Regions from separate parts of the Homo sapiens genome. Here regions 1, 2, 4, 5, 6 and 7 are each reported to be linked to region 3. The links are microRNA targets in miRTarBase. Many come from high-throughput screens and were not tested one by one. Region 3 holds a microRNA gene; each other region holds the end of a gene's coding sequence. Distances are between the middles of the regions.
Evidence for each region. Region 3 holds the annotated microRNA hsa-miR-4742-3p (UCUGUAUUCUCCUUUGCCUGCAG, at 2,482-2,504, shown strand). A microRNA usually pairs through its seed, bases 2 to 8, with sites in the 3' UTR of a target mRNA and lowers its output. Matches are read on the target gene's strand: a 7mer-m8 pairs with bases 2 to 8, a 7mer-A1 pairs with bases 2 to 7 and ends in A, and an 8mer does both.

Region 1: miRTarBase lists UNC80 as a target of hsa-miR-4742-3p. Seed matches in the 3' UTR shown: 7mer-m8 at 3,261-3,267.
Region 2: the mRNA of TTC8 is a reported target of hsa-miR-4742-3p. Seed matches in the 3' UTR shown: 7mer-m8 at 468-474.
Region 4: the mRNA of INF2 is a reported target of hsa-miR-4742-3p. The part of its 3' UTR that is shown has no 7-base or 8-base seed match.
Region 5: the mRNA of AKAP11 is a reported target of hsa-miR-4742-3p. Seed matches in the 3' UTR shown: 7mer-A1 at 1,988-1,994, 7mer-m8 at 1,981-1,987 and 7mer-A1 at 183-189.
Region 6: the mRNA of HJV is a reported target of hsa-miR-4742-3p. Seed matches in the 3' UTR shown: 7mer-A1 at 3,625-3,631.
Region 7: miRTarBase lists NIPAL2 as a target of hsa-miR-4742-3p. Seed matches in the 3' UTR shown: 8mer at 2,552-2,559.

What each region holds. Positions count from the first base shown.
Region 1 is chr2:209,994,846-209,999,402 of GRCh38, reverse strand. UNC80 (unc-80 subunit of NALCN channel complex) reads right to left here. Exons shown (of 65, transcript NM_001371986.1): 65 at 107-4,074. The coding sequence ends at 3,808. Among named protein-coding and RNA genes, the nearest start is that of RPE, 5.5 kb to the left of the region's middle.
Region 2 is chr14:88,877,148-88,881,679 of GRCh38, forward strand. TTC8 (tetratricopeptide repeat domain 8) reads left to right here. Exons shown (of 15, transcript NM_144596.4): 15 at 147-841. The coding sequence ends at 263. Among named protein-coding and RNA genes, the nearest start is that of TTC8, 55 kb to the left of the region's middle.
Region 3 is chr1:224,396,731-224,400,730 of GRCh38, reverse strand. It overlaps MIR4742 (microRNA 4742), which reads left to right and starts at 2,420; the gene lies at 2,420-2,504. WDR26 (WD repeat domain 26) reads left to right here. Exons shown (of 14, transcript NM_001379403.1): 10 at 1,697-1,842; 11 at 2,138-2,216; 12 at 2,505-2,634.
Region 4 is chr14:104,714,314-104,718,870 of GRCh38, reverse strand. INF2 (inverted formin 2) reads right to left here. Exons shown (of 23, transcript NM_022489.4): 21 at 4,015-4,557; 22 at 3,531-3,587; 23 at 1-76. The coding sequence ends at 3,532. Among named protein-coding and RNA genes, the nearest start is that of ADSS1, 7.6 kb to the left of the region's middle. RefSeq lists an enhancer at 3,256-4,195.
Region 5 is chr13:42,318,369-42,322,925 of GRCh38, reverse strand. It overlaps AKAP11 (A-kinase anchoring protein 11), which reads right to left. Exons shown (of 13, transcript NM_016248.4): 13 at 1-3,838. The coding sequence ends at 3,698. Among named protein-coding and RNA genes, the nearest start is that of AKAP11, 48 kb to the right of the region's middle.
Region 6 is chr1:146,014,404-146,018,960 of GRCh38, forward strand. It overlaps HJV (hemojuvelin BMP co-receptor), which reads right to left. Exons shown (of 4, transcript NM_213653.4): 4 at 3,067-4,297. The coding sequence ends at 3,674. Among named protein-coding and RNA genes, the nearest start is that of HJV, 5.1 kb to the right of the region's middle.
Region 7 is chr8:98,188,881-98,193,345 of GRCh38, forward strand. It overlaps NIPAL2 (NIPA like domain containing 2), which reads right to left. Exons shown (of 11, transcript NM_001321635.2): 11 at 946-4,210. The coding sequence ends at 4,098. All of the region lies in intron 2 of NIPAL2-AS1 (NIPAL2 antisense RNA 1), which reads left to right. It also overlaps the pseudogene RNU6-914P. Among named protein-coding and RNA genes, the nearest start is that of NIPAL2-AS1, 15 kb to the left of the region's middle.

The sequences.
Region 1 (4,557 bases), not on the chromosome of region 3:
GATGGACAGCAAGGCATTAACAAAGGCACACCCCAGGAATCCAAAATGAACATCTTCCTGAAGGAGTCAAGCTATTACCTACATTAAGAAATGAAACTTAGGCATCTTTAATGTTTTTAGATTTATTTTATCATATGTGCATACCTAAACACAGAAGTCTTAATATCTTTCATAAATATCTTTCATAAACATTTCAGTATTTATTCATATGCATTTTTTCCATGTTCTTTGGTCATTCAGTACTCATAATAGACTTCATAGTTATCTGAGGGAAGTCGGCTGTGTAGTCAATTTTTTGTTTTAACCTATAAAATGGCTAATAAAGGATTTTCATCCTGTGGTCACAGTGACAATTCAAAGATTTATGGAGGTAAATTGATCTGTAATCCTAAATGATCATAAAATAATATCAGTAAATTTGTCTTAAGCTTTTCCAAATACATTCTGCCCTCAACTTGTTTTTATTCTCCTGAGTGTCAAATCAAAATTTGTTTCTGAAATGCTGCAGTTGAGACCCACTAAAGTAAAAAGAAGTGGGATTTTTTACTCCCTGCCAAGACAAGGCCATGGAATGGGAAGTGTGAGGTCACAGGGCAACAGCATGACTTGGTGTGATAGCAGCGAATTCTGGAGACTGTGTTCTATTAAAGTATCCTTTATAACTTGAGGAAGGATATTTAATTCATGTTTCAGACTGTACTTCTATTCATTTATGACCCTTTCTTCCCTAAAAGCCCCTCCACACACATCCTATTCTCATCTCAGATACTCTCAGAGCTGGGCAGCAGAGTGGAGAAAGTTCTTTGTTGACTAAAGGAATATAATGCTAAAGAAGAGAGGAGCTATCACCTTGTTTAAGGTACTCTTGGAGGCTTGAAACAGCAAACCAGTTACTCCCAGCCTGTGCAACAGGCCCTAACCAGATCACCAGTACCACAGATTTTTCCACCAGCACTGCCATGCCCATTTATGCCCTTTGATTTTGACACTGTAGTTCTCAGTGCCTTGTCTTAATACACTCAATAACTCAGTTTCTTTTTCAGAAAAATGACATAGCTTATCTAATAGAATTCTAGAAAGCAGCAAATACTGAAAAATGAAAGTAAAATGTTTTGCTATAGGAGATCCTATATCCAGAATTTAAACTGTTTTAATTGGATCTGAGTCATACTATCATGGATAACACATGGTTTATTCCAAGGTCTCTCAAAAGCTAATTTCAGAAGAAGCAACCTCTTTGCTGAGTCTAATTTTTTCTACATGGGAAGTGGGTACCTTTTTTGTTTTTCCTCTGAATAAGATAAATATCATTAAGTATCATGGCTTAAGAAATGATCTACTATTACCAACACTGCATTTATCATATGTAGTAATTAGCTTTTAGTCATGTACTTAATAATATTTTGAACATTTATCTTGAGCTTTTTTCTAATCTTCCCCAACTTTTTTTTTTAATAGTTATTCCTTTCAAACTCCAGGTAACAGTATTCCTGAGAATACATCTTGTGACAGTTTTATGCACATACATATAGATACTTTAGCCATTACACATAAACATTCAACACATTACATTCAACACATTTAAGGGCACCTTAAATGGAACAGATGCACACATCTGCAAAATTTCAGTAGTCCCAGTATGAAAACATTCCTACTCTATAAGGCCCTGTTTCTCAGAGTGGAGGCTTTTTTGCAAGTTACAACATTGCTTAGCTTATTGAAAGTTGCTAATAGACTTCACACACAAGAGTGAAGGAGTCAGGCTAAAAGACAGACAGACCAGCATAATCATGTTCAGAACAGCCCAATACTTTTAAAATACATATAAAGGTATTTATGATTCTTGTTGAATATTTAACAATCTTCTTTGACTTCTTTGCTATTTAAATATTTCATACAATTATACATAGATAATTTGAAGAAACTGGAACAAAGCACACACATATATAGAGACGCGCCAATAGCCCAGACACTTGTAATTACCAAACATAAGGCCTCTAATGCTAATTTAGCAGCATAATTTTTAACAGGTGAAATATATCAGCTTGGAATCATAAAACCACTTAACATTTATATTCCTGCACTTGAGAATTATTTCAGCATTAACTGTAAATAACATGATAATATTGTAAAACATAAAAGAGTAAAAGAGGTCATTTACTGCCTCAATTTTCTTTCAATTGTTAGATCTGAAATTTTTAGTTTTGTTCTTTTAACTCATGGATATCTTTCATTCTCTTAGTGAATAGGACCATAACCCCAAGTTATATTTGAAATTATAAACCACAGTATAAAGTATGCCTATTTAATAAGCAATTCTAACAAAAAATAATTTTCCTTTATGATTAAGGTGGGTTTAGTAGGTATCCTCTTTATATATGTATACATTTCACAGCCAACGCACTCAAAGTTTAAGCATACAGAATGTGTTTTAAATTCATTGCAGGGTAATTAAAGTCTATATTTAACTTCATCTTGAGGACTACAACACATACACACACACACGCACGCACACATACACCACCGTACCAATTTAAGTATGTATATGAGTTTGTATATGCTTGGTTGTTAGGTAACAGTTTTCTAATGTAAACTGTTAAAATTTTGAAATTCAATTGTGAACCACGTGATGCACAGCCCTACCATAGGATCAGTAACACACTAGGTGTTGGCCTCACAAGCCTTCTAAGTGTTACACTTTTCTTGAAGTAATTGAACTTCAAGTTAAAGGCCTATTTGCAAAATATATAAACTGGAGGTGTCTATGAAGAAATTGCTTACTTTATACATTTTTCCTTATAAACTTAGATGTTCCAAGTATCATAAGAATATTGTTTCTATTAGGAAAATGTTATTTTATTAAACCGATTCTAACAACACTAACCTTAATATCTGAAAATATGCCCTCCAGGGCAGGCACAGGATACTATAAGGAAAAGTATTACTAATCACATTTTCCAATAGCTTCTAATCTTGGTATTGATGTAGTCAGGGCTAGGAATAGGAATACCATCTCTTTTAAGTGATTATATATACATTTAGTTTTTATAATTGTATAGGCTGTTTAGGTTCTTAATTCAGAATTATTTCTGATGATTTCTAGAATATTCTGTAATATTCTAATGTGATAGATTATGAAATGGGATGATCTTATGCCATCTGCATTTTGATTTACAACATGCAATGAAAATGATAGTTGAAAAATAAATATCTAAAAGTCCACAGCTCTCTATATAGTATTTTTTTCTTCTTCTAAATGGCTGTATTGTTACTCAAAACAAAAATGGCTGCAGGCTTGTTATTTAGTCTCCCCAAAGTAATATTTTTCCTATTAATTATTTTTTTATGTAAATTGCTACTTGTATAGCCAACCTGAATTGATATTTTTTAAACTATAAAAATAAATATTTGCATGAGATGTATAATGTGAGTAATCTCAAAAAATTGCATTCTATTTTTAGATCATATCATTTGTTAATATTTCTATGAAAGCAGCAATGAATAGTATATATTTTTAACTGCTGAAGGCTTCTTGAATCATAAACAATGTGCAGTGAAATGGCTCTTTCCCCTTATTCCTCCCTGGTTTTGTGATTTTCACACAACTAAATCCTTTTAGCCATTGACTTTTAAGATGTTTATGAAACATCATGTGTATTGGCAGCAAAACCTATTCAGATTTGTGCCACCCATTAGAAGTAAAGTGCTATTTTGTAATTAATCTTTTTCAAGCAAAAGTATTGAACTTGTAGTAGAGAGATCACTTTCATGTCTTCTCTATACCTGCAGAGCTTACAAGATACAGAATTAAACATGAGACTCATCTAATACTGCATCCGTTTTCCCCAGCTCAGTGGGAGTAAAGGTGAACTGACTAGATAGTAGCGGGTTCTCCATGCCATTTTCCTCACTGATATGAAGGACAGTGTCTCCATGCTGTAGGAGGCTGGATGTCTCGAGGCCTGTGAAGTCATCAGGGTCAGAGAGTTGGGCAGAGAGTGGACTGTGTGCAGTAGCACCTTGTGCTTCTGTGTCCTCCTCCTTTTCTCCTTCTTCAGTGGGGAAGTTCTCACTCTGTGATCAAAAGGATCATAACATTATGGAAAGATAGGATGGGTACCAGAGAAGAACATCAAAAAATGTTGTTGTCTAGTGGTAATTGGAAAAGGAATCAGATGGCTAGTCCCAGTTCCAGCCTTTGTTATAGGTAGGACCTTACGTAGGCCTTTCCAACTTTCTAACCCTCAGTTTTTGAACATGTAACATGAACACAATTTTTTGTCTTGCTTATCTTGTAGACTGTGAGGATCAAATGAGATAATAATGCTTAGTGTTAAAATGTTTTTTAACCATTAAAGACTATACAAATGTATACAGTAACATTGCCCTTTAGTTTTCCTTAAATACCACATGAGAAGAATCTGACACTCTAAGAATTCATTTATAAAAATGAAAAGAAAAAATATACCAAAACAAGAAAAATATCAACAGGAAAAATAGCAAAACAATGAGGAAAAAGATGAAAACAAAAAGTTCCTTTCATCTTATAGGACATAG
Region 2 (4,532 bases), not on the chromosome of region 3:
TGTTAGTTGTGGGTTTGTTAAAAAAAAAAGAAAAGAACCCTTTGAATTTCTACAGCATGCAGATACTATGTCTTATTTTCTTTTTTACTTCCTTACTCATTTTTTTCTGATCTCATTCCATGGTCTTATTCTTGTATTTTTTGCAGATTGGAGATCTGCAGAGAAGCTATGTTGCTGCGCAGAAGTCTGAAGCAGCATTTCCAGACCATGTGGACACACAACATTTAATTAAACAATTAAGGCAGCATTTTGCTATGCTCTGATTGTTCCTTAGACCACATATGTTCTTATGAAGCAGCATTATGCAAGGGGAAAAAAGCACTATGTCTGTGTATGTATGTATATAGTGTAATACGTATATTTTAACAAACCTGTCCTTGATATTAGTTAAGGTGACACATAAGGGTGACACAGAATGTGTAATGCAAATTTCATAGTAATAGTAACTTTATAAAATAATATTATAAAATACAGGATTTAAACCTTTCTAAATAGATCCTGAAACTGTCTCTCACATTATATAGTAGATGTTTGTTTATAATGTTTACAAAACATTTTGGTGAATTTCCTCAATGTTTTATAAATGTACATTTTTTAAGTCCTTAAGCTGACTCTTAGCCATCATGTAGCTTAAGGAGTCTGAAATCTGCCATTAAAACTGCACCTTTAAGCCAGGTGTGGTAGCATGTGCCTATAGTCCCAGCTACTTGGGAGGTGGAGGTGGGAGGATTATAAATAGAGACTTTCCTTAAGACTTTAAAAATGTATTTAAAACTATTTTTTATTAAATACTTTGTGATTTCCTATTAAGCTTTAAAATAAATCATTGTGTAAAACACCATCATTTCATTATTTTTTAATGAGTTTTTATTTTAGTCATCTCAGGTGAAACAGGTTTTACAGAAGTCCAGTAATCTTAGAAATCATCATTATTTTAATTTTATTTCAAATGATATACCACCAATTCTGTTTTTTCCTAAAAAGTGATTTATGGGATGTCACATTATTAATAATAAGAATATTCAGATTAGAAATAGAGTCACAGGCCAGGAGTCCCACTTCTGGTCAGCCACAGCACGGAAGTCAGCAATATTCCAGTACCATGCATGGCATAGCAGCCTTAGAAAGGCTCTTGAACTTTTCTCTGCCTTATTTAGTGGAACTCTTATTAAAGTGTTCACACAAGGAAATGTGTTAATGGGACAGGACCACTCAAACTCATACTTTGGACTTTGGGACCTCCATGTTATTTTTCATTTTTTTAACTTCATGAAAACTATTTGATAGATACTTCTATTCTTTTCAGATTTGTATAAATTGTATACTCAGCTGAGAGAACAAAAAAATTGAATTCAAGGAATGATAGCTTGCTCAAGGCTAGCATTCACTACAGACAAGAAAGCAAGGCCCCGCGTCACATCCATAGCTGCAGCCCAAGGTCTTGTTCCTGCACCTTAGACTTGAACCTTTCTTGGTTCTCTGTGATGTGTTAGTGTTTATTTAGCCCTTGAGAATTTCCTCAGGTACTATCACATTTCCTAATATCGTAGTCAATATTTAGATTCAAATGGTATAATGTGAATCATTTTCTTAATTTAAAATAAGAGCTAATAAGAATGGCTGAACATTTACTGAGGATGTTAAATATGCCCACTGTTCTGAGCTCTTTATGGGAATGAATTCATTTCATTCTCACCGTAGTCCTATGCAGGCTGTTATTCCATTTTACTTATGAGAATACTGAGGCATAGTAAAAAGCTTATTGAACTAGTAGTAAGTGCCAAAGATTCAGGTTTAGGCAGCGTGGCCTCTTGAGTGTGTGCTCTTAATCACTAGGTCAAATCACCTCTCTCTGTTTCTGCTGTAAATAAATCTACTACCATTTAAAATGAACATTGTGTGCATTAGGAAAGTTGAATAATAAGGGAATATTAACACAGCAAAAAATAAATGATTCCATTTTCCTAAGGTGATATGGAGGGATTTTGTCTTGAATTTATGTGAATTCAGTGTGAGCATGAAGGCAAAGAATGAGTCACAGTGGCTCAGGGCAGAATGATGACATAGCACCGTGGATGACTGTATCAGAAGCGACATTCAGGATGTCTTTGTAACAACATTTCCTATGGACTGCGTAACTTCTGGCTTCTGTGCCAACATTTCTGTAGAAAGAACACAAAAAATACTAATAATTGTTTTCCAGTTTTCCACTGTGGCTAAAGAGGTGCTCAATCCATAAATACAAATTGCTCAACCAAAATTCATATCATCGAGCATATTTCCAACTGATGAAAATGAGATCTGGCAAGAAGGCTTCCTGCGCTAAAACATTACTGAGGTTAGAAGTTCTTCCTTTTTTACAAATGTGTCATGGCTGAGCCAGTCCCCATAGTGATAACTCTTCCATTGCATTTCTGAGTGCTTTTTCCCAGGCTCAGATTATCTATCAGGATACAATTTATGGCCTACAGATAAGAAAATTAATAAAGGTAACGTGTCACTACATTATTATTATTATTATTATTATTATTATTATTATTATTATTATTATGACAGTCTTGCTCGGTCGCCCAGGCTGAAGTGCAGTGGCATGATCTTGGCTTACTGCAACCTCTGCCTCCCGGGTTCAAGCAATTTTCGTGCCTCAGCCTCCCAAGCAGCTGGGATTACAGGCATGCACCACCACACCCAGCTAATTTTTGTATTTTTAGTAGAGACAGGGTTTCACCATGTTGCTCAGGCTGGTCTCAAACTCCTGGCCTCAAGTGGTCCACCCGCCATGGCCTCCCAAAGTGCTAAGATTACAGGTGTGAGCCACTGCACCCAGCGTCTCTACACTTTTAGTTTCCACCACCAACCCTTTACTACAATGAGGGATTTCTGTCAGGGTCTTTCAGCTGGGATTGAATTTAAGCATTCAGAAAACAAATATTTTAGAAAGGCTGGCAGGACTAAACCTTAGAAAATAACCCAGAAATCAAGTGTAGGAAAAAAAGCCATCACCAAATAATTTTGTATTCTAGGAAATAGAGAAATTGGAATGTTCCATGTTTATGTTCCTTGCAGAGTTCCAAAATGGTCATCTAGGCTCAGATTTGAGGGGGAAACATTTATTTAGCAATTTGAAAATAACTGCACTTTCATATCTATCCATATAGATGGCATTCGTCCTATTTTTAGCTAAATAAAAACAACATTTTTGAGAGAGACTATTATTTCACTTCTTTGATGTCAAAGCCAGTCCTTGAAATGAAAGAATAGACATGTTGTTATAATCCTTGGGAACTATGTTTCTTGCAATGTGATCCTTTTCTTTACCTGAATCTAATTCTGACTAATAAGGGAAAGTGGATTGTTAAGTGAAAACAACGGGAACTCTTGGTGAAAGCAACCGTGTTATCTTGGAGAAGAGGCTAGACCTAAACAGATTTTAGGAAGAATTTTGTTTTCTTTTTAAATCAGAAAGAGAGACCCTCTTCCAATATTTGAAACTCAAGTTTTTATGGACTCCAGCACCTTGCAACTGTCACCGCCCCCAAACCCCACCCCTCTTCTGGTCTAATAGCTTCAATTTATTTCTCTCTACTGGATTATGTCTTTTTTAAAAATCACATTTCCTTTAAGCCTGCCTCCCTTTTTAAAAATAGACAATATAACTGTTTATTAAAATAAAGGAAGAGAAAGAAAATAACCTGAAAAGGAAACTCATAAAAGAAATTAAAATGGTTGATAAACATATGTAACAAAAAAAATTTGATAACAGAATGAAATTAATTCAAGAGAAAGATACATTTTTAACCTCTTCAGAGAACAAAGATTTGAAATGTTTATTATATATGAGGTGAAGGTACTGTCAAAATTCACTGTTGGGCATATATATCATTACAATCTTGAGAGTAGTGTGGCAAATTTTATTAAATTCCTTCCATTTCTCTTGTGTGTTTTTTTTTTCTTCCACTTTTAAGTTCCAGGGTGTATGTGCAGGATGTGCAGGTTTGTTACATAGGTAAATGTGTGCCATGGTGGTTTGCTGCACAGATCAACCCATCACCTAGGTATTAAGCCCAGCATCCATTAGCTATTCTTCCTGATGTTCTCCCTACCTCTACTGTCCCCACAACAGGCCCCAGTGTGTGTTGTTCCCCACCATGTGTCCATGTGTTCTCATTGTTCAGCTCCCACTTATAAGTGAGAACATGTGGTGTTTGGTTTTCTGTTCCTGCATTAGTTTACTGAGGATAATGGCTTCCAGCTCCATCCATGTCCCTGCAAAGTACATGATCTCTTTCCATTTTATGGCTGCAGAGTATTCCATGGTGTATACGTACCACATTTTCTTTATCCAGTCTATCCTTGATAAAACCTGCCCCCTTTTCTAGTACCACCCTATCTCCTTTGTCACAGGTCTTGAAAGGCTAGATGACTTTTGTTACCTACTTCCTCATCTTTCATTCATTCCTCAACCTCTTTAATCTGGAGTCTACTTCTACCACTCTAGAAACTGCTTTCACTGAGGTCACCAGTAGCTCCCA
Region 3 (4,000 bases):
CTACTAAAAATACAAAAATTAGCTGGGCATGGTGGTGGGTGCCTGTAATCCCAGCTACTCGGGAGGCTGAGGCAGGAGAATTGCTTGAACTCAGGAGGCGGAGATTGCAGTGGGCCAAGATCGCGCCATTGCACTCCAGCCTGGGCAACAAGAGTGAAACTCTGTCTCAAAAAAATACATAAATAAAACAAAATATACTCTATGAACACCTACTTTGCTGTCGTCGTAGACAAGCGCTGTCCAATAGAATTTTCTGGGTCATTTTTTTCCTTTCTTTTAAACATTTCAAATGTTTGTACAAAGTATAGACTTTGGATTTAGTAGAACAAAAAAATGTGTTTTGCTAAACATTTTTGTTTTTATGAGCAAGTTTCTAATTTATAAGAATTGAAAAGATTTTTTAAATTTCTTTTGAGATTTTTGTAACCAAAAAAAAAAAACACTGAATTTTATGAGTAGACTCCCTTTAATATTTGAATAATAAAAGTGGTGACAGGTGCTACCAGAGTACTTTTCAATCTTTGTGTCAGCTTCTAATAAGTAGCTGCCCTAATTATTTTGAATTGTTGGAATGATAAAAATAAGTTTTATGGCAAGGTAAACTTTATATCATAAGTATCATTTATATCATAAATCATTGTTTACCTTGCCATAAAACTTTCTCTGTTACTTGCAGTGTAGTCTAGATTCTGTGTCTCATATTACAGACTCACATGGTCCCAGTATGCACGTCCACATTTTTTTTGTTGTTTTTTAAGAGACAGGGTCTTGCTCTCTGCCACCCATGCTAGAGTACATTGGTGTGATCATGGCTCACTGCAGCTTCAAACTTCTGGGCTCAAATGATCCTCCCGCCTTGGCCTCCCAACGTGCTGGGATTATAGGCATGAGCTACCACACCCGACCCCAGATCAATTTTTTAAACTAAAACAAGATAATAAATCATTTAATTTAGCTAAAACAGGTTATCAGTTTCTTTTATTAAGCTCGTTTGGAACACATGGATTTTGGTGTTATATTATCTCAATATGGTTATGAATTGTTCTTAATTCCCTGCGTGCAAGATGATCATGTATGTTTCTGCTGAGTTTGCTGTCCTATACTGTGTTAAGCCATCAAGATACAGGATTATCTAACTTATAAAATGGGAAGGGTTGTTCCTCTCAGAACTTTGGATATTCAATGAGATAATGACTATAAGAGCTTTGATCTGTAGAGCACATTACAAATTTGGTAAATTTTTGAAAAATGTCATTAACAGATTCCTCCAGTCTGTATGAAGCTGTAAAATGTTTTAGAATCTTTTTCCATTTCACAACTCCTAAATATTAGGACAAATTCCAGTATAGTGAATTTTAAAGGAACGTTTAAATTGTTTTTGAATAAAAGTAAGACCTTACTTGGAACTTAGGGACTGTTTCTTTCTTTGTGTTATTTATGCATGGTGAGTTATTGAAGGGAAGATAGAGCTACAAAGTGTCTCTCTGCTTTCCCTTAAGTATGGTTGTAATGAAATTTGAACTATATTCAAATTTTCATGGTTAAAAACACTTCTAGAACAATTAGGTTGAGATCAGTCTCAGGAAAAAAAAAAAACCTGTTACTAAAAGATATTGTGAAGGGAGTCTTTTGGTTCTTTATTTGCTTTCTGAGTGCTGTTGAGTAATGAAGTTAATAGTAGTTTTTTCTTACTCAGGACTTAGATGGTAATCTCCTTGACTCCTGGGAAGGGGTAAGAGTGCAATGCCTTTGGTGCTTGAGTGATGGAAAGACTGTTCTGGCATCAGATACACACCAGCGAATTCGGGGCTATAACTTCGAGGACCTTACAGATAGGAACATGTAACTATTTTTTGTTTCCATTAAACAACAATTACCTGATTTATATTCAAATGTGTAGTGGAACTTGCCTTTTCACAGTTTTTATGTTTTTCGTTTTGGTTTGCGTGGTAATTTGGATTGAAGGTCACATGGTACTTAGTAATCAGTAACTCAGATTCTTCTCAATTGAAGTATAGTATGTAATAGTGATTGCAGGCAAAATTGTCATACTTAAGCTAGCACATCTTATGTATTGATAATTTGAATGTCTTGACTGTTAATATGTTGTTTTTGACAAATTATTTTCTGGTTCCAGAGTACAAGAAGATCATCCTATTATGTCTTTTACTATTTCAAAAAATGGCCGATTAGCTTTGTTAAATGTAGCAACTCAGGTATGTTTATTAGTATAATTTTCTGAAAAATTTGGCTTAGTACAAGTTTTATTTTAACTGTTATTTTCAGTGTATTTATATTAACAAAATTTTCTACTTACCCTTAAATTTGATTGCATGTGATTGATCCTTAAATGTGTATAATCAACCATAAATTTGTCAGAATGTTGGTATTTTGCATAATAGAAAATGAAGATATTTCATCAGGCAAAGGGATATTTACAGATACTTTTTAAAATTTGTTTGAGTTGAGGCAGATTAAATATCTGTATTCTCCTTTGCCTGCAGGGAGTTCATTTATGGGACTTGCAAGACAGAGTTTTAGTAAGAAAGTATCAAGGTGTTACACAAGGGTTTTATACAATTCATTCATGTTTTGGAGGCCATAATGAAGACTTCATCGCTAGTGGCAGTGAAGGTAAATTGTGTCCTTATCAGTTTACATATGTTGATATTAAAGTCTGTAAATCTCAATTTATGAAGGCAGTCATGTCTCCAAGAAAATTCAGGGTAGTAAGTTAAAATTCTTTCATTTATCCAATACACGGTTAATTTCTCTCTGTAATGACCTAAGCCCCTGTATTATCACAAATTGTCACATGCTGTCATGTATTACTTTCTCCTTTTCTGTAATGACCTAAGCCCTCCATATTGTCATGTATTGTCACGGATTAGCAGTGCTTATTCTGACCACGTAGCAGTGTGTTTGGTGCATGTGTCTAATCAAGATTTAGTTAAATTATTATACTTTCATATGTTGACTTGTATTTTCATGGGACTGATGGTTTTTAAGGGTTGGTAGTATCTGAAAAATCAAGGTTAATTATGATGCTCTACCTGAACTTGGACAGATTTGACTATAGTTAGTTCTTCAGTATTTCTTCAGCGGTCACCAGAGTTATAATTGAGTTTGATAATTCTTAAGATTTTAGGAAAGCTGAAATTATTCTTCCTACTACTACCCTTTTGAATAAACTTGTTCTCTAATCTAAAAGTGTCAGTATTCCAGACAGGAATATGCCTAAAGTCACTCTAAAGTGTGAATTGTTTAGAAGATGCAAGCACAAATAAGTGAGGCAGTAATAAAAATTAGTGTACTTTTTAAGGCGATAGGAACTTAACTAGTGGCAAATTATTGCAAGTTTTTATTCAACACATTTTTCTTCAATACCCACTGTACATTTCTAGGTACTATAAAAGCAAATTATTTAAGTCACTTTTTTTGGCCGGGCATGATGGCTTACACCTGTAATCTCAACACTCTGGGAGGCCTAGATGGGAGTACTGCTTGAGGCCACGAGTTCCAGACCAACCTGGGCAACATGGCTAGACACTGTCTCTACAAAAAGTAAAAAAATATATACTGAATCTGGTTTTATAAGATAGACCAAGGAATTAGATTATGTTATGTTCCATTTATTGTATAAGATGTTTACTATCCCTATCTTGACAAAAAACTGATCTTGGTAGATAAGAGGATCATAAAGTGCACATGAGGTTTACCTTTAAGAATAAGGCATATTTAAGGATTGGGACAAAGAGAGACATTTAGAGATTTAGATTTTAACATCAAGCATATAAATTCATCTATTCCTTTTCTTTTCTTTTCTTTTCTTTTCTTTTTTTGAGTGCAATGGCACGATCTTGATGCAACCTCCACCTCCTGGGCTCAAGCAGTCCTTCCCTCCTCAGCCCCTCAAGTAGCCCCAACAAATTTTTGTAGAGATGGGGTTTCACCGCGTTACCCAGGCTGGTCTTGAATTCCTGAGCTCAAGCAGTCTACC
Region 4 (4,557 bases), not on the chromosome of region 3:
GAGCCTCTCTTGGCAGAATGGCAGCATGTCCTGTGGCCTGGGCTCTCTCACTTGGCCTTGGGCCTGGGCCTGAGGCCTGTAAGAGAGAGAAAAAATGACATTATTAGGAGCAGTTTTGCTGGGTACAATATCAGGTGCCCGCTTCTGGGTGCCCAGGTCCCTGAACCCCTCATCGCCACTGTCCAGCAGGTTGTGCCATGCATCGCAGGTCCACTCTGACCCCAGGCTCTTTCTCTGGAGCAGCACAACTTATCTAGGTGGAAGGTGCCGGGCTGGCCTGGCCAGGCTGGGTTTTGGCAAGGCGTGGCAGCCTGAGCCTGTCTCCTCTCTGCTGAGATAGGGAATCTCTGTGGCCTGTCCCCCACCCCCTGTCTGAGACCCAGGCTGCACTCTGTCCTTACTCATTCATCCCCACTGCCACCCCCTGCAGCCCTCCATTGCTTCCACGTCGGGCCCTGGGCCCCACACGAGGACCCCAGCAGCGCTTTCTCCAGTGGGCTGCTGAGGGCGCTCAGCCCTGCCCCAACAGCTCCCGCCACCCAGACGGCCCCCACACATGGCCCCACAGGCCTCCTGCCCCCAACGCCCTCTTCGCTTTCTGGTCCAGGGGCCCTCGATGGCCCTTGTCTGAGTGTCACCCCCACTGCCACCACAGTGCCAGGTGGTGTCCCAGCTCCCCAGTGGGATGGCCCAAGCAGGGTTTGAGAACCACTACTCTAAACAGACAGCAAGAAAACAAAAACTATCCAAAACAATCACTCAAAGGAGGGTCTCAGCACCATTCCCCACTCAGGGAACCTGGAGAAATGGCCAAGACCAAGGCCCGTGCAGGGATGGGGGGATCAGCAAGTCTGGGGTGAGCTAGGAACAGGGGCTTGTGCCAAAGATGGGAAGCGCTCAGGGCCCCCGCTGGTCCCCATCAAATGCACGGCAGTGGCAGTGAAGGATTACTGCACGTTCAAAACTCACGTGATGGAAAAAGGGAGGGGAGGGGGGAACGCTCGGACGAGGGGCGGCGAACACAGAACCGCGCTGCAGCGGTTGGTTCCACAGGTCACCACCGGTGCTTATTAACCAGACAGCGTGGTGTTCGTGCAGTGGAGGTTCAGAAACCACCCCCGCAGCCGTGGTCAGCGCTGCTGCCACAAACGTCCCCACCCAGCTGGGGAGGACATGGCATCCCTTGGGGTAGAACTCCTGCCCCAAAACTCAACCTGGACCTACTTGGGGGCGCAATCAGGCAAACCCAAAGTGAAGTTATCTTCCAGAACGTCAATGTCATACAAGACAAAAAGGGGCAGGAATGTTCTAGAACAAAAGAGACTGAAGTGATATGATAACCAAACACAGCATGTGACTCTGGATACAATCTTGTTTGCAAAAACAACAAAGCAACAACTAGAGAAGGAATTATTGGGGCAAGTGGCACATCTGCACTGGGACCGAGTATTAGAAGCATGTGGACGTGAAGCGCCCCACAGCGGACCCTGCCCGGGGGGGACTGGGAGGACGGCAGCGCACCCTGCCCGGGGGGGCGGACTAGGAGGACGGCAGCGCGCCCTGCCCGGGGGGGGGACTGGGAGGACGGCAGCGCACCCTGCCCGGTGGGGGCGGACTGGGAGGACGGCAGCGCACCCTGCCCGGGGGGGACTGAGGAAGACGGCTGTGCTCTCAGGTGTCTGTGGGCGAGTTTAGGGCTCCAGTGCCATGATGTTTATAAGAAACTCTCAGATGCCTCAGTTGGAGGGGGGCAATGTAGCAAAATGGTCACAATTTTGGTATTTTTGGCAAATGGTTGTAATTTCGGGGAGAAGGTGTTGTTCATTCTGATCTATGCAGTTTCCTGTGGTGTTGAAGATTTTCTAAATAAAAAGGTGGGGGCTGGGCACGGTGGCTCACGCCTGTAATCCCAGCACTTTGGGAGGCCGAGGCGGGTGGATCACCTGAGGTCAGGAGTTCGAGACCAGCCTGACCAACATGGTGAAACCCTGTCTCTGCTAAAAATACAAAAAATTAGCCGCGCGTGGTGGCGTGTGCCTGTGGTCCCAGCTACTCGGGAGGCTGAGGCAGGAGAATCACTTGAACCTGGAAGGTGGAGGTTGCTGTGAGCTCAGATCGCACCACTGCACTCCAGCCTGGGCAACAGAGTGAGACTCCGTCTTGAAAAAAAATAAAAAATAAAAAGTTGGGGAGAGAAGAGGACTTCTTCCTCTTGCCCTCAGCCACGTGCGTGGCAGGAGCTGGGGCGGGTGGAGGCTAAGCACGTGTAGCAGGTTCAGGAGGGAACCAGGTGGAGCGTGGAGCTGGCACTGGACACGTCCATCTTTCACTGGACCATTGTCAGATGTGGCCGCCCGCCCCAGACCTGCATGCTCCACTGTTCCTCACACTCAGGGCCAGCAAGTCCAAGTTCCAGCCTCTAAGGGAGATGCCAGCACCTTTCTAAAAAGTACACGTGGGTGCTTCACACCAGAGAGCCACACTCGGAAGATGACCCTGGAAGCAAAAGCTGGAACCCAGGGTGAAGGCCGTGCCCCAACAGCGAGGACAAGCTGTCCGGAGAAGCTTCTCCGGGGTCACGACTGCTCTTGCCTCTGATGGGCACCAGCAGACCTCAGGTGTGCACCTTGAGCCTAAGCCCCAGGCCCAGCGGTCAGCATATTTGTGATGCACCGACACCGGGCTGGCTCTGAGCAAGGCTGGAGGTGCTGGAAGACGCCACGACCTGGGCTCACAGAGCTCATGATCGGCCGGGCTGGACCTTCTGGTTCTCTGCTCTAGCCCCTCCTCCACCCAGTGCAGGCTGGTCCTGTCTAGCTGGATGCATTGGCCTCTCCAGCCCTGTGGACGGACCTGGCTGATTGACCTTTGGCTGGTCGCCCCCCAGAAGACTCGGTGTGCGGGGGGTAATCTGCTTCTCCATAGACCCACCCATGGCCTCGGGGTGGGAGGACACTGTCCAACAGGAGGGGGGTTGCAGTGTACTTGTCCCTGGCAGCATCTGCCCTTGCGACTGTCCCGGTCTCCTCACAGACTTCCTGGGGACATGCCCCAGAAGGCCCCACGCCATTGACACACTTAGAGTGAAGATAGCCCTCCACCAACAGACAGAGCAGGAAAGCCACAGGGTTACTGGAACTGCAGTTAGCGCCAGGACACCAGACAGGAGCAACCTCAGCCTGTCCTGCCAGCCAGGAGGTCCCGCCCACGCCCCAGGGCCCGGATCCTGCTTGCTAAGGGAGTCCGGCTGGCCCTGCCACCTGCCCTCTCGAGGCCCGCATGCCCGGGGCCAGCACTGAGGTTGCGTCCTGCCTGCAGGAGGCACCAGTTGAGCAGGTAACCTGCGGAGAGGGAGGGGATGGGGCGGGAAGCCCACCACCAGGGCTGCGGGAGCGGCAAGGCCACACTGACGCACCACGCGGGCTGGAGAGAAGCCAGGTTAGTGTCCCGGAGGGGTGTGGGCAGCAAGCTCCAGCCCCACTGCCCTGCAGCTGCTGTTAGCCCCCACGGAGCGCCGGCTGCGTACATACCTTACTGGATCACACACAGTTTCTTTGTTTTATTATCATCAGAATCAGGGGGAACCTCTGCTTCCAAATAAAAGAAACGCACTCAACGGCTTATCACACAGAAGCAACCCTGACTCGGAGTGGGTGGGGCTGGGGGGCCCGGGACAGCCATGCCAACACCCTCTGAGGGCTGCCCGGTTCTCTGGCCACTAAGCCACATGGCAGCCACTTGCCTGGGACCTGGTGCCCGGTGTCCGCCCCCTACTCCCTAACGGAGGTGGCGTGAAGGTCGGAATTAGTAGGTTGGAGGAATAGTTGCACGGGCCGCGGCAGCCCACATAGCCGCCCTGCGGTGGACGCACTGCCGCCTCCTCTCCCGTGCCGCACCCAAGTCACCTCTCCTGGGTGCCGCTGGAACTTGCAGTGCCCAATGGGGAAGGGGAGGGACCGGCTGGGTGCCAGCGCCCTGGCGTGGGACGGTGCCCGGGGCCCCTCCCTGAGTTACCTTCCTGGCTCCTGGAGGGACGCTTCTTCCTTCGCTTCCCGGTCCCCTTTGAGGCCCGGCCCCGGGCCCTGGGGAGTGTGCCCGACCCCGAGGAGTCGGTCACCGCATCCTCGGAGAAGGACTTGTCCAGGGATGTGTCCAGTGCGGACTCTGGGGCCGTGTCCTCCTCGTCCTCGTCCTCATCCCCACCTGGGCCTGCTGCAGGGGGTCTGGCACCACGGCTGTGGACAGCGTCCTCCAGCCCCTCACTTGTGCTGTCGGCCTCGGCCTGGAGGACGCCCAGCAAGGACGTGGGATCCTTGGCATCTTGCCTTGAACTTCCGGCTGCAGGGGGCTGGTTGCTGGAGAACTTGAGGGGCTTCAGGGCCTGAGCATCTCCCAGAGTCACCGGCCAGGCCCCCTCCAAGGGCTGGGGGCACTGGGGATCCTCAGTGGTTAGGACATCGCTGGCATCCACATACCAGGAAGAACGCCTCTCCAGGGGCCGTGGACCACCCTCCTCCAACTGCTCCAGGGTGGGCTGAGGGCCGGGGGTCACGGCGT
Region 5 (4,557 bases), not on the chromosome of region 3:
CTGCACAAGTAACCAAAGGTAGCAAATCCAGCAATATTAAAACCGGATATTAAATAGTATTCAAACATTACAACAAAAACAAAATAAGAACTTCTAGAACTAGAACTCTACCCTATGAAAGGAATGTACACAGATGGTTAAAAAAAAACCAATAAATAAATAAAGTGACAAGAGTGACTAATTCTGTATCCACATCTTCAGAGCAGGAATACAGTAAATGAGTAAATGCTTAGAGGAGTCTTGCTGAAAATGAGAAAAAATGCATCTCACTTTAGTATAATTTTTCTAAATTCTCACTGAAGCTCTAATTCTCTTGTGCTGGTGACAGGTGGACAGGGTTTTTAAATGCAAAGTATTCTCCCTACACCCTGAGTATGGATGCATCAGTTGTTTAAAATTCTGTGGAAAGTTTCCTTAGAAAAACATAAAATTTAAAGTGATATACTGATGGGAAATTGAATATATTAATTGTGGAAGAATATCAGCTAACTAATTAACTAAGTAGACATTTAAATCTGGACTCTGTTGAAGAATCAAGGTTAAACTCTGCATTATGTGCACTAATGTCAGCCATCTAATATCAAAGTCAGATAAGTAAACTATCTTTCACTTTATACATAGTGCATTTAGTAAATAAATTCTCTTACCAGCAACATAAAGCCCTTGTTGGAGCAAAATTAAAGTATTAAGAATTGAATTAACTTACAACAAATATCTGAAGGGTAAGTGGAACATTTTTCAAAGTATAAAGATGTTATCACATATATTCACCATGAATCCTCTTAAAGGTTTTATAACACCATTAAATTATATCAAATATCCAACAGATATTGTCATTTTCTTCTGTGATTTATAAAGGAAACATTCCTTTTGTACAAATCAGAAGTATCTTAAAAATCAACCTTAACACCAAAATATACATGTAATTTTAACTTGGTTTAGGAAAACATGAAAGAACTGTCACATTTTGGTGTGAACAAGGTTCTGAAAACCCCCTATCAGAGGTCTCATTCACTTTTTTCCACATATCACTTGAAGGTTTTGAAACTGGTAAAAACAGAATTCAGCTCGATGTACATCAAAACTTTAACAGTTCTGAAAAAGACGTATTTCGTAAGGGCCAAAATGTACAGCACAGCAATATTACAATGTTACAGTATAAATATGTCAAGCCAATTTGTAATAAAATAAGACAGTTGTCTTCAAAAGAGCTGTTTGACTATAGAGCAACCAAATAGATCTAGAACATCTTTGGAAAAACCACAAAGTGCCTTTACAGAAAGTTAAGTTTAGACTACACTTAATTAAAAGATAATACTCTAAACTCAAAATTATTTTCTCTATATGAGGAATTTTGACACTTGTTTTCACACCTGCCAATATTCAATATTTTTAACTCACACTTCTTTTCATACATCTGCCAATATTTAATATTTTATTCTATGCCCCTGCACTGAATTGATGTAAGTGTGAAGTTCCACTATTATTATTACCACACATGCTAATACCTAATAACTGGTCTGTCATTATGTAGTGGTTAAATAAGCAAATGCTGAACTCAGCACAGCTCTAGCAAAATGCAAAGGAAATAAGAAAAGCCTCACCTCAGAATGATTACACCATAAACAGAAATAAACATTTTCAAACACAAAGTTTCACAAAATAATATATCATCACTTTAAAAGAAATTCAGAACTCTATTTTGCTGTTGATCAAACTTGTGCATACACTCAAGTTACTAAACACAATTTGATAGTTAGATACTTGTAAAAATGCATTCTAAACTTAATAATCAATTAATTCATAATTAACAAGAGCAAACATTCCTAGTCCTAACATTTAAAAAAACCCAGTCCAGTGCTGCCACATCTCAAGTTCTGAAAAGCTAAAGGCAGGAACAATTCTGGTTATACAATTCCTGCATTTCTCCACCTTAAAAAATACTTGAAGAAACTTTAGGAAACTTTATATTAAGGCTTGCTGTATTTCTGTATCTTAAATTGAGAAAAATCAAAACCTACGATGTAACCTCGAATTATTTAAATAGCTTTTGGCATTTTTCTTGAAAAGCAAATTTGAATCTTTCACTATAAAACATTTCTATACCACAATTACTAATTCACATTAATGTGTAAGTGCCCTCATTTCCTATTCCCTGGCAGGCGCTATGTCTTCTTTCTACGTTTTGTGCAGCTTTCAGAACAGTCAGTGCTCAGAAAAAATGAAAACGTAATGGAGCAAAATCAAAGTCCCCAAAAAAAGTGATTTATCCTAGATTACAAAATCCAGTAGTGGAAGAACCAACATTTACACACCCAAATACACACACACCCACACATACACAGGACACAGCGAGAGATGAGAGAGAGTGGGGGGTGGGGGAGGTGAGAGACAGTGGGAGGAGGGGGGAGGGGGAAGAGAGTGGGAGGAGGGGAGAGAGAGTTGCAGGGAGGGAAGAGAGAGACAAAAGCAAGACACAACCTTTGTCCTCTATTCATGTCAACTTGCAGTTTCTGGACACAAACTAGTAGGAAATGTAGAGCCCAGAAAGATCGTGTCAGAGAACTTGACGAGACAGTGTAGATATAGTTTATCTGGGTGGGGCGGGGTGGGGGGAAATCCCAATTTTTCTAAAACAAACAAACAAACAAACAAAAAAAACACCACATTCTTGGTAGAGGTTTTTTCAAAAATCCAACAATAAAAACTACTGGGCTTCTCTAAATGCATTTCCATATTAACATTAATTTTTAAAATTTCAACATGTTTTACAATTTAAGTTTTCACTTGTAAGATAAGTTGGGAACCCAAAATTGTCAAAAAAAATTTTAATTATTGTCAATAAAAATTCTTACTGCACAATCTTTATAGGCGTTTTATTTTAAAGCACCTTTTTAAATTTTAACAGTGGGTTTCTAAAAAGAAAACAGTAAAATAAAAGAGGGAACAAACTGGCAAGGTTAAAGTACTCCCTTACACACACACACACACACACACACACACACACACACACACACACCTTTCATGCCAGAATGACTGGCAGCATTGGCAAATAATGTCAATGAAAGGATGGGGGAAACTATCACTTATAGTGTTTATAGAAACCTAAAATACTAATGTTTCTGCTAAGAAATTAAATAGTTTGGGGAAATCAAAAAGCTACCAATAGCTGATCTATGAAATATGAAAATGAAACTGATTTTTAAAAACAGGAAAGGCCAAAAATCTACTAGAAATTTTTAAAAATCAGCCTCAATTTTATTTTCTGATGTCAGACTAGTTATTAATTAGATACCATTTGTTTGCAAAGGAGCAAAATTATAACTCTATCACTGGAACCTATCCTCAGCCACTTCAGTGCAGTTTCTAGCAGCACTATTTGGATACAAAAAGAATGTGGTCAGACAATGCCCCTGAAAACCCCCTGGTTAGACCTTCCTTCAAATACATGTTCTTAGGGTCTTGACACACTACACATGTGTATAGAAGAATAAATGAAGGTAGTATTTTGACAGATTACAAAAGTATGAACTATATACACCGAGTGATAACACAAAGCGCTCAGAAAGCTATATTTACTTGCCTCCCAACTGACTTACGATGTTAATATTCACTATTCAAATTTTATCCTAAACATCTTTATTGGCTTGTTCCCCTCCCCAAACAAATACTAAAATATACTGGTTTGGGGTTTGCTCTATGCATTTTCCAAGAGCCAATCAAACAGCGACTTGCATCTCTCCTCACTGGAAGCTTTTTCCATCACTTCATAGTATTGAAGCACAGCCTGCAGGAGGTCTCCCACTTTCCATCCTTTCTCTTGTAATTGTTTTGAAAGCTAAGAAAGAAAGATGTGTCAAACATTAACCAAAAACAATTTTATAACAAAGCTTTTATTTTTATTTTCAATATTAGCTGAAACTTAAGAATCCTGCTGTTTACAATTAAATACCGTTTCCTAGTTATAACAAGGTCTTCCCCTCTAAACCGCTACCCCTTTACCCAAATTAAACATTTTCCCTTCTTCCCCTTTATAAACACATCTCCTCCAGAGAATGACACTTTGGGATCGCTGGAGACAGAGCTCCACAAACCTCACCAAGCAAATAGTCTGCATGGACATGCAGAGGCTGAGTTTCTACAGGAAATTCTTCACCTAACTAAATACAACTGCCACACCCTCAATTAGGACATAAAATAATAAAGACAACGTCAAACTCAATAAAAGGATGTGGATTTTCCTTCCACAACATATAGTGTGGCATTTTTCTGGAATACACACTCTAGCCTCAATGGAAACATGGCTTTCTAAGTTAAAGAATGTTAATGTTTCAACAACAAAACAACAAATAAATAAATAAATAAATACAGGTTTAAATAAATCCTGTTGTCACCACTCACGACATGCTTTTGTTCATTTCTTTTTCTACTAAGTTCTGTAAAAGCTCTTAAGTTTTGAAAGATCTGTAAGTTAAATTCTGAAAAACTACTTTAATTTTGTGTAACATATATATGCTTAACCTTTTTAAAAACAGCTTTATTGAGATAAAACTCACA
Region 6 (4,557 bases), 78 Mb from region 3:
ATTTGTATATAAGTTTTTGTGCAGCACATGTTATCATTTCTCTTGGGTCAGTACCTAAGTTTGGAATGTCTGGTTTGTATGGTAAGTGTACACTTACCTTTTAACGAACTGCCAAACTGTTTTACAAAGTAGTTGTACCATTTTACATTCCCACCAACAGCACATGAAAGCTCCACATTTTCCTAACATTTTGTATTTTATTTAACAGTCTTTTCCATTTTAACCATTCTAGTGGGTATGTAGTATTTTTTCATTGTTGTTTTCATTTGATTTGTATTTCCCCAGTGACTAATGATGTTGAGCATCTTTTCATATGCTTATTTTGAGCTACCTATTTAAAAATGCTCCATTAATAATAGGGCTAGTTGGGCTGGGCATGGTGGCTCATGCCTATAATCCCAGCATTTTGGGAGGCTGAGGCGAGCAGATCACTTGAGGCCAGGAGTTCGAGACGTATCTGGTCTGCCATTTCAAATTTCTCCTGCAATTCTTTATCCTCTATTCCCTCCTCTCCACCTCTTTTAAGGACCACAGCCATTCTGCCATTCCCTCAAAGCACTGTCTCTATGCTTTCCAAAGTAACCTTTAGCTAATGGAGAAAATAATGTGTTGTAATGAAGAAAAAAAAATTGGGGGAAGAGACATATCCAGGGCTGTCTCTTCACTTCACAGAAAATATAGGTATTTTAACTCAAAACATCCTTTTGAAGAAATACTCTTTGTATTGGTTCTCTTAAAAGAGTAACTTTATCCCTCAGGTGTGGGAATTTCAAGTGAATTGAGAAGAATTTCGGCTGGGCGCGGTGGCGCACGCCTGTAATCCCAGCACTTTGGGAGGCCGAGGCGGGCGAATCACGAGGTCAGGAGATCGAGACCATCCTGGCCAACACGGTGAAACCCCGTCTCTACTAAAAATACAAAAAAATTAGCTGGGCGTGGTGGCGGGCGCCTGTAGTCCCAGCTACTCGGGACGCTCAGGCAGGAGAATGGCCTGAACCCGGGAGGCGGAGCTTGCAGTGAGCCGAGATTGCGAGATTGCGCCACTGCACTCCAGCCTGGGCGACAGAGCGAGACTCCGTCTCAAAAAAAAAAAAAAAAAAAAAAGAATTTCACAGCCAAGTGGTAAGTGAAATTCTTTGATGACACCTGTCATGTAATACTCTTCCTTCGCGCGGGCTTAGAGCTAGCCTTATTTACTTTTTTTTTTTTTTTTTTTTGAGACGGAGTCTCGCTCTGTCGCCCAGGCTGGAGTGCAGTGGCGCGATCTCCGCTCACGGCAAGCTCCGCCTCCGGGGTTCACGCCATTCTCCTGCCTCAGCTTCCCGAATAGCTGGGACTACAGGCTCCCACCAGCACACCTGGCTAATTTTTTGTATTTTTAGTAGAGATGGGGTTTCACCATGTTGGTCAGGCTGGTCTCAAACTCCTGACCTTGTGATCCACCCGCCTCAGCCTCCCAAAGTGCTGGGATTACAGGTGTGAGCCACTGCGCTCGGCTACTTCCCAAATATTTTCAGTGCGTGGTTGGTTGAATCTGTGGATGCAGAATTAGTAGATACAAAGGGCCCTACTGTAATATTTGTTCAGGGGAGTATTGTCGGGTGTCAGGGACTGAGAGGAGAGGTGGAAGATAATGGTGAGTACTTGATTAGGGCAGGGAGGACAGGTCCTCGGTTATGGAGTACCTGAGAGGGGAGGATGAGACCAGAAACAGGGAAGATATTAAATGTAAAAGTTACCTCCTTCATAATTTTGTTCAGAGCAGCATTGTTACTTTAGAGCACCCTCATCTAGAACAGCATTTCTTCTCAGTCTTTCTTCTACAAACTAGATTCCTTCAACTTTGGGCTTTCCCTCCTTTTCCAACTCTCTCTTTTTGGCTTTATATGAGAATATGAGAAGAGAGTAGTTGTTTTTTGTTTGATAGTCTCACTCTGTTGCCCAGGCTGGAGTGCAGTGGCGTGGTCTCAGCTCACTGCAACCTCTGCCTCCTGGCCCGGGTTCAAGCAATTCTCGATTCTCATGCCTCTGCCTCCTGAGTAGCTTGGATTACAGGATTACAGGCATGGACTATCATGCCTGGCAAATTTCTTGTATTTTTAGTAGAGATGGGGTTTTACCATGTTGCCCAGGCTGGTCTCGAACTCCTGGCCTCAAGTGATCCACCCACATTGGCCTACCAAAGTGCTGGATTACAGGTGTCAGCCACCGCGCCCAGCCTCAGAGTAGCTTTTGTGGTGACATTGACCACCACAACTCCCCTTTTAGAATCTTTACCAGCTCCACAACCAGAATCTTTAATGGCTCTCTGCTTCCTTGACAATATAGTATAGTGATTAAAAATTAAGTTTCGGGATCCAAACGGCATAGGTTCAGTTTCTGGCTCTGCCATTTGTTAACTGTGTGACTGGAGGCAAGTTCCATAATTTGTTAGCTGTGTGACTGGAGGCAAGTTTCCTTATATAAAAATAGAGATAAGAATACCACCTTCCTTAGAGAGCTATGAGAATTAAGTCAATGTTTTAAAAGTGTTTAAAACATTGCCTGGCAGATTTTAAGCTTCAATAAGTGTTAGATATTAATCAAATTTAAACCCCTTACCCCCTTTTTAAGGTGCTTCATAATCTGGCCTCTGCCCATCTAACCTTCTGTCCCATTACTCCTTGTCTACTGCATTTGAGTTTTGCTCATTTCCTTGCTGAATCATGAATCCATGCATAACTCCAGATGGTTTTCATTGCCTGGAAGATCGTTAACAATTTGAATCTTACCCAGTCTTCAAAGCTCACTTCAAATCCCATCTTCTCTGTTACCTTTTATTATTCTTATTACTTTAGTTCAAATCTACCATCTTCCCATCTGAATGTACCATACTGTAGGATTTAGTGAATAATTACACACTCATCACTCTTTCATGTGAATTGGTTTTGTCTCTCCAATAGCCTGTAAACTCCCTGAGATAGCAACAGTATCTGATACTTCCGAGCCCTCTTTCAGTGGAGTGAACACATTGCATTTACTCCATTTCAAGCATCTGTAAAGAGATTCAACATAGGCAACAGAGGATGGTGTGAAGAATTTGTAGCTTTAATAACAGATTAGTTAGGGGGTAGGGATGATACTTCTGTCCTACCTGTGCCATTCTTCAAAAGCAGAGACTCCCTTCACCTAAGAGCTAGACAATGCCTGCTTCATTTTTGAATCAAGAAAGCAGAACATACCTTACACACACATATTCATCAAATAGACTTCTTTCCCTAATTATGTCTTCCTCCTTTGAGTTTCTTATGGCTAATGATCATGTCTTCTGCTTTCAGCTCTTGCCTCTTAAAAATCTCAACCCTTAAATCTTTACTGATCATTAAAACCTTCATGACCTCTAAACTTATAAGGGTGAAATCTGCAGTAAATGGATTAGAACAATTTGTTTACTATAAATGAGGCTGGAAAAATTGGTGAAGAGCCCCACAGAGATCCGGAATGCAGTAACCTTGCCCAGAATCCTTATTCTGTGATAATTTCAACCCTGGACTGCAGCCTCATCTGACTCTGGATAATGTCATTGTTTCACGTGTCTCCTAGGCCCTGCTTCCTTTAATGATTCTTTACATTCTTCTATGCCAATCTGTATCTCCAAATCATTTCCAAACTAGTAATGGGACTGATGGTCCCCTTACTGAATGCAAAGCCACAGAACAAAGAGCCCAGAAAGGAGTGGAGCTAAGAGGGTTGCTGAGGAAAGAGGAACCCCAGCATCTGAGGGGAAGAGATGCAGCTTCTCTAAGTCTGGCAGGAAGGCTCGGGCATCCTCCAGTGCTGCCTGAGCTGCCACGGTAAAGTTGGGATCACCAGAAATTAAAACATCAAAGACACAGGAATGGAAGTAAGCATCTTCCACTGGAAGCCCTTCCTTGCACAGCCGTCTGGCAGTATCAATGGTTATAGCTCCCCGACGATTGCGCTCTGATCGAGAGAGTCGCTGACTTGGAGGGCACCCCCCAACACAGAGCTGCAGGTCCTGTTCAGCTGAGAAGGCCATGGCCACATCCTCTGCTACCTTGATGGAGAAGGAGAGCTGCCCAGCTGTCTGCCGAATGATTATAGTTGTGCCAATGTAGGCAGCTTGGATCTCCACATGGTTCCCAGGGTTAGCAGTTTGAATCGACAAACTGGATCCCCCAGGTCGGTCACCTCCATTGATAGAACCATCTTCAAAGGCTACAGGAAGATTATCCACCTCAGCCTGATACACCTTCTGATCAATGCATTCCTGCATGTTCTTAAATATGATGGTGAGCTGTGAGGACAAGAGGGAAAACAGTTCATTTTGGGTTCAGTGCATCTTCCCCCCAATCAGACCTCATACATAGTTAGAGATCTGATCCAAGTAGAGATGCAGGACTACTATGGCCCTCAATCCTTGATCCCTTCTCCTATTTATGTTCCAGTATTACCTCATCCCTACTTAACCCCCTCTCTACTTAATCGTGGCAACTTCCTAGGAGAGGGAAAAGTTTCCCTTCTGAAACTCCTCAGGTCCGCCCTCTCCGACTGTCT
Region 7 (4,465 bases), not on the chromosome of region 3:
TTGGGACTCATTAACTCTCAATAAGGACCAACATTAAAGGAGGAGTTTCCTCCCTCTCAGGAAAAAAAAAAAAAAGCTTCCTTGGATGGGCCACAGCTCCTGTAACTGATTTGCTCTTCTGGCACAGGACATCATGTTGTGTGGTACCCTGAGGCTGGTGAGAAAGGGAACAGACTCAAAAATTCCTGGGTGGAAAGGCTCTTCCCTGCATTTACCACAATTGCTAAAATGCTAGGTTTAATAGCTCAAGGCTGGTCTATATTTGCATGGAAACTGTGTATGTGTGGAATTTTATTTTATTGTTTTACTTCAAGATGGTCATAATAAGAGCCAGACTGTTGATGAGTCTAACGATTAGAAGCAGCCTCTAAATTCCCCATACAATCACGTTGGGTTCAATTTTGAGATTTTATTCTAATAGTTCAAAATGTGTGGTGTTTATCTAGCAACCTCACTAAAGGACTCACATTCACTGGTGCCAAACATGTGCATTAGCCTTGCAGCCGCCCAGTGCAAAGACTGCCTCTATAACCAGCCACAGAGTTTAAGTAAAGCAGTCTGGAAGAGTGTTGGGAAGGTTCATGTCAGTAACTGCTATATTTATGTCCACCATATCACTGTTAAATTGGCAAGCACTGAGGCAGCCTTCAGCATGGCTGAGTGTGTACACTCACCATTCCTGGATGAGTTGCGTGCTTGGAAACAGGAGCACAAAGAGGGTGCTTGGCTTAGGGAACTTGGCTCGACATTTCTATCTCTTTGAGTTATGTCCACCATTACACCTGCGTCCTTTGGAGCCAAACTTACACATTACCACCATTACTCTTTCATAGCACTGAAATTGTACTCATCTATGAAATCTGCCTTTCTCTTTCTTACATTGCCACAGAACAGAATCTCTAGGAGTGTGTGGGGTATTGAAGAGGGGGAAGAATACATTCTGGGTCACTGCTTGAGAAATTTTTTTATTGTATTTGTTTTCAAGTGATTCTGGTAACCAAAGTATTACAGTTACAGGGCAAGCAAACATTTAAGCCAAAAAACAATCATATGGCAAAGGCCTCTGCTTTAATCTACTACATGAGAGGTCATTGTTACTCATTTCCAAAGCTGTTATAGACTTGGAATGTGGAATTGGAGAGGCTTTTCGAATGTAGTTAGTGGTGTTCACAAAAGAACCACTGCCTTTCAACTTGGACCCTAAGAATGAACTTATCACTTCCATTTAGAACTTATATAAGCAAAAATATCTGAAGGCAAATATCAAGCCATGTTTCCACACTCCCAAAGTATCTCATTTGTCATGAGCCATGAGTGTCACTTTTTAAACTCCTTCCCTGAATGCCCAATCAACAGGAAAGAAGCTGCAGAGCAAGGGCAGAAGAGTCTAGACCAGGTGTTGGGAACTATAGCTCACAGACTGGCCACTTGTTTTTGTTTGTTTGTTTGTTTGTTTGTTTTTGAGACAGTCTTACTCTGTCGCCCAGGCTGGAGTGCAATGGCATGATCTCGGCTCACTGCAACCTCCACCTCCCGGGTTCAAGTGATTCTCCTGCCTCAGCCTCCCAGGTAGCTGGGACTCCAGGCACCCACCGTCATGCCTGGCTAATTTTTGTACTTTTAGTAGAGATGGGGTTTCACTATGTTGACCAGGCTGGTCCCAAACTCCTAACCTCAGATGATCTGTCAGCCTCAGCCTCCCAGAGTGCTGGGATTACAGGCATGAGCCACCATGCCTGGCCTGTAAATAAAGTTTTACTGGAACACAGCCATGCTCTTCTGTTTACATCTTGTCTATGGCTGCTTTAGTGCTACAATGGCAGAGTTGGGTAGTTGGGACAGACACCATGTCTGTCTGTTGGTACAGACAACACAAACTCCAAAATATGTACTCTGTGGGTCTTTACTGAAAACTTTGCCGACCCTTGGTCTAGACAGATAGTCAGATGAGCTAACAGTTGGCTAAAGGTCCTCAACTCACAATGCCAAGAGAAGGACTGAGTTGGCTTTAGTTGTTGTCATGCACTGTGTAATTTAAAAAATCTTACAGGCCAGTACAACTAAAACTCCTATTTACCTTACTTTGGAGCAACAATATGGAAAGTAAAACTAGGTCTGAATATATTTTATATGTTACCTGGACTTCTAAAACATTGTTGATTGCTTAAATGTGCATAAGTCAATGTCATTTCTCAAAACGTTTAATAGATGCAACTGTTGGCGGCTGCTAAAGTACTGGTGTTATGCTTGTGCCTGTGTGAAATTCTACAGTGCTGAAAATCTCATGCACTCTAGCTATGAATGCAGGTCTACTTGAAGCAAAACTCTTCAATCTAATTGTTTTCTCAATCTTTGTAAACCAGTTTTAAGAGTCACCAGAAATCTGTAGTTTAAGGCACCAGATACATTTCTTGGCTGAGCCTTGTAGGACCAATATGCTGGACCAATTCGGTAAAATACACCATAAATTATGACTGCTTTATCTGAATGCATGGGACACTTGCTACGATGGCGGGAATTATTACCAGGAGTTTAGGAGCCAGACATGGGTTCTGTATTTTTCATACATTGGTGATCAATTCAAATCTCTTTCCTTTGCAGCCAGGTTTGGTCAGTCTGGCCAGGAGTGCAGATTATGACAAAGAACAAAGCTAAAAGACCTGAGCCATTAAGGTTACAGTCTCAATACCACCGAGTTAAACAACCTATTTAAATGCAAGACTATTGATTGGAATGATATTGGACAGACATGTCAGAAGTGATCTGAAGGCTTTGAAATGTCATTAAGGGTGGGACTTATTGTTGGATGTTGGCTGCAACGAAGGCTACTTCTTTTCTTCTCCTTTAAATATTAGGTAGATCATAAATAACAGATATTATTATGGATTCTACCTGCAAATGTGTCTTAGCAGATATGTGATGAATTGGAGTGGAAAAGCCATTCAGGAAACAGGAGGACTTGGGCTTCCTCTTGAAGCTCAGGTTTGACCACTGGGTTGTTTTCTATGTCTACAGGTTTAAATGGCTGAAATTCAGTTCTCTAATCACAACTCTCCTTTTATCTAGAAGAATTTACAAAGCTTGAGGTAATGACTTTGGGAAGAAATGATGTGTAGTGAAACTATCACTAAGAATTTAAATGTGATTTTTTAGACTTATATGGAGAATAAGACATATAAATCCACTTGATAAATTATAAGATCTATAAAAAAGACATAGGATATTAAATTTTTCTTCAGTTTCAAGTATGATAGAATCATACAGCTGAAGAAAACATCACCATTCTAGATTTTTATTAAAAAATAAACAAACATTAGTCCTACTTTTTGTCTCTAACGCTTCATGAATTTATGTGTCAGCCTTGTGCAGGGGCTGTGCTAATCTCTGCATTGTTCCTATTTTAGTACATGGGCTACTGAAACAAGCAGAGTCCTACTTCTTAAACTTCCTCTTCCTTACACGTAAAAAGCCCACCAGTCAAGGTCTTTTAATTTTGGTGTACACTATCACTGAATGCCATTTATAAATTCTAATTTTAAAGAGACCCTTAATTTTCAAAGGAGGACTTTGATAGCATTAGTTTTCAGAAAAGATGACTTGCAATTCTAACTTAGTACTTGAAAGGTGAGATTTTTATAGGGAGGCTTATAAAAGGTGTCTTAGAAAAAAAATGAGCGCTCTCAAACCTTTCTTTTGGGAGTGAGGTTGTGGGGCTGAAGTGACTTTTTAAAGTGAAGCAACTGACACTACCCGTGGGAGAAGCCACCTATGCGACCTGTGGCCAAACCGCAAATGTATGTTTCTGTGCAACATTCCTGCTAGAGCAGCCGGGCTCTGAGTAAGGTGTAGCTGGCTAGATAATCACTAGGGAGAGGTCCAGGGTGTGGGGAACACTCCAAATCACATTCCATGGAAATATTAGACTGTCAGAGCTTAGGAAGTCCCCGATTGTCCATAGACGCTGAGGTGGGGGAAAGGACTGAAATGAATGCTAGCACATGTTAGCTTATAAAAGAGCTGCTGACACAAATTGAACATGTGCAATTTTTTAAAAAGGTGGTATCGAATAACAGGCCAACAGCCATCCTTCTCAGCATTTAGACCTCTTTCTTCTCTCCACTTTGGCTCTTTGTTGAGTCACTTCCATCAGGCAAAGTTCCATAGGATAAGCTATGTGAATCTGGTTGTATTTTGTCCAACATTTGTTTCCCTGTGGAGATAATAATCATAGAGAATCTTTTGAGGTCTTACAGAAAAATAAGTCTTAATAATTTCTCCTCAATCTAGGCCACATTTTATCACCTCTCTTTTATACTATGTGGGCACTCTCTAAAGAGAAGAGATGAATATCAAGGAAGAAAAGGCCCTTGAAACGCCATGTCTGTAGCTATGTGATAGCGAATTGTCTGTGTCAGAGCCACTATCCCCACCCCACAGGATCTACATGCTGGCCATGGAAATCAGG